2 separate regions of the Homo sapiens genome follow, and region 2 is linked to region 1. Evidence: fine-mapped expression QTL. A gene starts in region 1. The other region holds a variant in brackets. All regions are shown on one strand. Distances are from middle to middle.

Region 1 (2,500 bases):
AAATGTCACCATTTCTGTACCTCGCGACCTGACTTCATTTACTCATTCACTGGTTCACACATCCTGCATTCATTCACTCTGCATTTATTAAGCATCACCGCGGAGATTAGGCTGACCTTGCTGGGTACTGCGGATGTGAAGGTGTCTGAAAGACACACCCTGCCCTAGTTTAGCGGATCCCACCCTCATGGGGCCAGACACCTCACCCCCCACCCTGCACCCCACCCCTCCCAGTTCCCACTCTCAGGGGAGCCCCAGGAGGGAGCCTTTTCCTCTGCCCTGTGAGGCTGGGAAAGGTGTTGCCAAGGTGCAGCAAGCAGCTAGGCCGGATGAGGAGGGCAGTCCCCTGGGGAGGACCATGCTCGCAAAGGGAAGTTAGGAACAAGAGCTGGGAGAAGGATGGCTTTCTGTAGCTTCCATTAACCTTGCGGAAACACCCCCACTTTGGGGTAGGGGGTGAAGGTAGTCAACTGTTAGGTTTTCTTTCGGCCCAGGATAAATAAATGTCATTCCCTTCTATATCCAATGCACAGTTATTACCTAGTAACTTTCTCACTATTTCGTGGGAACCACGTTAAAACCTAAAGTTTAAATAAAACAGGAGAACTCGGAGTGCATGTTTAAATGAACTCTGGCATCCCCCATAGAGTGGGGCGCCCGAGTCAGCAAACCCTTGGCTCACGGGCCCGCGGTGGGGACGCTACACGTACCTTTCAGAAGTGACCCGGATGCGCTCGTCGCTGGACGACTGCTGCTCATCCTCCTTCTCCCGGAAGTGCTCCTGCACGCACTGCTCCTCGAACTCATGCAGCCTCTTTAGCTCCTCGTCGCTAAGGAAGAGCTCTGTGTGAAGGGAGAAGTGTCGGCCACGTGAAAAACAAGAAGAATCAGTTTCGTGGCGTCAATGAGAATTTCACAGCCCCACTTTAATTAAGCTCTCTTCTCCGCCACTCCTAAGGCAGTTCGCCACTACTCCAATTGATTTTTATCTAAAAAGGGGTTGTCATACGCCCCAACCCTCTATCAGTTGGAGCCAAACGGCCCGCTTTTAAACATAAAAAACAAAATTACATTTACTGGGAAAGTAAAGCCAAGTAATATTTCCTGGAAAACTTTTTGCACTTATTTTTATGAATAGAGTCAAACGTATAGCATTATTTTCTCATTTTCTTTAGATGCAACAAATTAAGACGTTTTGAAAGGAGCATTGAATTTATATAGAAATTTACAGAGTAGAGTTATTTTAGAGAATTAGCTCAACTTCTGGTCTCTATGAGCTGGCTTTCCTAATATTAATTACTAACAAATTAACGAAACTAGAATAAAATGGGTACAAAATGAGAAGCCTTTTGAAAAGAACAGCAGTTGGACTGAGTGTGGTGCTTTTCACACGAGCAAGTAGTTGAGTGAGATTTCTGTGAGGATGTCCAATTTGAACACTATTTTGAAATCAGCCCAACTTAGAAATGAAGAGCCCTGCACATACTCAATCCACGATCCCGTTCCTCTTGGTCCCCTTCTCTCTTTTTCCTGCAGCGGCCGCTGAGACGCATAATGATGATGTAGATGTGGCTTAAAATGATCATCGGTGGGGGCAGGACTGGCCTGTCATGAAATGTCATAATCAGCTGATATCGCTGGAACTTCCACACCTGGTTGGATATTGATTTTACTTCAAAGAAGGTATTGCTTTAAAAAGAAGACATTTTTACAGTTAGTTATATTACTTTTTATAGTGATTTCCCAGAGCAGTCAAAGTTACTCACATTTAAGTGAAAATACTCAATGAGATGGCCTTTTAGTGCCCTTTAGTACTGATTCCTTGATTATCCAATCTTTTGGTTTATCCATCAATGTGGATTATCTGTGCTTAAGGACATTGTATTCATAAATAGCTAAGTGTAATAAATTGCTATGTACTGCTTTCTTGAAAAACCACACCACAATCTACTCATATACTCAGGAAATTTAATTTCCTATGTGTAGCGGTATAAGCCATTTAACTAAATGCTTTCACATGTTTAAACTTTCAATTCTGTCTAACAAGTAGATGACTACTTTTTTTTCAACTGAATTAATTAGTTATTGAACTTATTTGATTGAAGGTTCGTTATTTTGGACATGGGGTAGGTACAATCTTTGTCTTATTTTAGCTTCCAACAGGAAGCAGTAAGTGCATGATTTCATTGTCTACCAATACTGGGACCTTAGGAAAACCAGTTACCTTCCCTGACCTTAGTTTTCTCATCTCTCAAGCCAGAAGTTTGGACCAGGTTTTCTCCAATGCCCTGTTCAATTCTAAGATTGCATATTTCTGTGAAGGATTTTTCCCTCTATATTTTTCATCTTAGAAGCTAAAATCATTTTTTTCAATATTTATTGAGCATGGTCAACATACTCAACACAACATGCCAAATAGGCAGGTTTTATAAGAAACTCGATTTAACCCTTTAAGCCATTTTTTTCTTAGGCCATTTTATCTTGTATTCTATAAATGATC
Region 2 (2,500 bases), 76 kb after region 1:
TGTGCTTACCCGCATCTGAGCTTACCTGCCACAGCAGTGGAATGGAGAGGGCACAGCTCAGGCTCTTTCAGCCTCCTCCTTGGCCAGGGCAGGGAGCTGGGTGAGGAGGGCCCACCCTTTAAGAGGAGCAGTCCCCATGAGGAGCATGTGAGCACTTGGGCCTGGGCCCTCATGATTGCTGTGAAGCGATGGCCCCATGACCTGACTCCCAGGCCAGAAAAGGAAGCCAGGGCCCCAAGCTTCCAGGCTGTTCTGTGTGGAATCCCACAAAGGCAGCCTTAGGATGTGAGAGAGGTAGGGGAGCTAGAGCTTTTCCTTTGAAGTGGCCCCGCCATGGCCCCCTCCCACCCAGCCGCCCTTCCCTGGCTGGAAATGTCAGCAGGGTTTGCATAATTGAGACAATTGGACATAATGGTTCTTTCAGAATCCCCTCATCAGCTGGGCAGTGTTCGTGCCCCGGGGAGCTGGGAGAAGGCGGCACATGGCACTAATTACTGCTAATCCTTCCTCATCTAAGTTGGGCCTGAGGTCAGGGTGAACCCAGCTGCAAATGCAGTGTGAGCCCCACATGACTCTCAGCCCCTTCTGAGTGCTTCTAATCCCTGCTCTCCCCCCTTCACCAGGAGCTTGCCTGCTTGGCATCCACAGTCACCTGAAAACCACCACGGTGGGAGCTCTGTTGGATTTGCTGTAACAGTATGCGTGGTTATTCCAGCTTTCCATGAGCTTTCTCAGCCCAGGAGGAAAGAAAAAACCCAAACCCTGAACTATCCCTCTCTGCAGAGGGGCTGGGTCTTCCCCAGCATCTGAGGCTCTTGGGCATTGTCCGCCTCCCGCTTCTCACAGAGGAGCAGACAGATTGGACGTAAGGGCAATTAGGGGTGTTCCCATTTTACAGATGAGGACTCTGAGTCATGTGAGAGGGTGGCTTGCCCAGAGAGCAGGTGGGGTGGAGTGGGAGTGCCCAGGTTGTCAAGTTCTGCCCATATGTAGAGTCCTGAAGCTGGAGGCTGGGCTCACTCCCCCACCCAAT[G/T]CCTGGCAGACAGCCTGGGGCTCAGGGAATCTCTGAACTTCTGACGGAAGCACATGTGCCAGGCCATTTTCTGGGTCTGTCTTTGCTTTCATTCGTTTCTCTCAGGGTCTGTCACCGCAGAGTGGGCGTGCAAAGGGTCTGGTGAGTGGCTCCCACGTGCTTTGCTGGAGCGCGCACAGCCCCTGGGCGCACAATGACCGCAGCAGCCTCCCTGGCCTGGCTCCCGAGTCTTCTTTCTTGAACTGGTGTTGGCTCCTGAGGCCTGAGAGAGTCACGGCTTCAGCGGGAACCCTTCCGGGGGCTGAGGGAGGGTGCTACGTGGCCGGAATTCTGAAGGCACAGTCAGGGCAATCCGGGGCATCTGAAATCAGTCTGGGAGCAGTGGGGAAAGACCACATGGGGAAGTGAGCTGATGGCCGGCACTGCCATGGCTGGGAGGTGTGGAGGCTCTGTGGTCAGCACCAATGGCCAGCCCGACCGGCTGCCAGTCAGTGGCTCTCCAGGCAGTGGGCCCTTCACTAGACAAATAAGCTCTTTTTCAGGTTCAGATAAGATGGAAACAATGGGAGCCCCATCCTTCCCCAAGAGAACACCCCTCCTCCCCAGGGTCCATGCAGTGTGGCCTGCAACTGGGAGCTGAGATGTCTCACACAGTGGCCACAGGCCACGCGTGGCTATGGAGTGCTGGAAACAGAGCCAGTCAGAATTGAGATATGCTCCGAATGTAAAATATACACGGGATTGCCAAGACTTGTGATAATAATCGATTGCACATTGAAATATTTAGAACATGTTGGGTTGAATAGAATGTTATTAATTTTTTTCACCTGCTTCTATTTACTTTTCAAAACTGACTACTAGAAAATTTTAAATTGGCCCAGCTCACGCCTGCAATTCCAGCACTTTGGGAGGCTGAGGCAGGTGGATCACCTGAGGTCAGGAGTTCGAGACCAGCCTGGCCAACATGGTGAAACCTCATCTCTACTAAAAATATAAAAAATAACCGGCCATGGTGGTGGGTGCCTGTAATCCCAGCTACTCGGGAGGCTGAGGCAGGAGAATCACTTGAACCCTGGAGGCGGAAGTTGCAGTGAGCTGAGATCACACCACTGCACTCCAGCCTGGGTGACAGAGTGAGACTCTGTATCCAAAAAAAAAAAAAAAGAGAGAAAGAAAGAAAAAGAAAAAAAAAAGAAAATTTAAAATTGCCTCTGCTCTGTGGCTCACAGCTATGGCTCACCTTGTATTTCTGTTGGGCGGTGTTGAGCTGCAGCTGTGGGGAAAAGGGGTTCTCACCAGACTGTCCACTCTCCAGAGGCATCCTCCCCCATGAAGTCACTTGGATGACCTGGTGCATGGACACAGTGTGTGAGGACTGTGGAGAGACGCTGTAAGGTCTGAGAATCATTATGTGTCTGTGGAGCCGTCTGAGGACACAAGAACACCACCGTGAAGGGTGGATACTGA

Alleles and levels. Alleles are on the strand shown, and positions count from the first base shown. SD is a standard deviation of normalised expression in the study named.
For the expression in substantia nigra of the gene that starts at base 1,444 in region 1, allele T in region 2 goes with a lower level than allele G (moderate effect, 0.48 SD a copy in GTEx).

What was found. PIP is the estimated chance that this variant, and not a neighbour inherited with it, causes the effect.
Region 2: its variant is the best candidate, but not a certain one, in a credible set for the expression of TRPM1-AS1 in substantia nigra (GTEx, PIP 0.65).

What each region holds. Positions count from the first base shown.
Region 1 is chr15:31,025,429-31,027,928 of GRCh38, forward strand. TRPM1-AS1 (TRPM1 antisense RNA 1) reads left to right here and starts at 1,444. Exons shown (of 5, transcript XR_932056.2): 1 at 1,444-1,683. TRPM1 (transient receptor potential cation channel subfamily M member 1) reads right to left here. Exons shown (of 28, transcript NM_001252024.2): 26 at 1,487-1,689; 27 at 711-843. RefSeq lists an enhancer at 453-1,652.
Region 2 is chr15:31,101,632-31,104,131 of GRCh38, forward strand. TRPM1 (transient receptor potential cation channel subfamily M member 1) reads right to left here and starts at 94. Exons shown (of 28, transcript NM_001252024.2): 1 at 26-94. The variant G/T (reference allele first, on the strand shown) is at 1,034.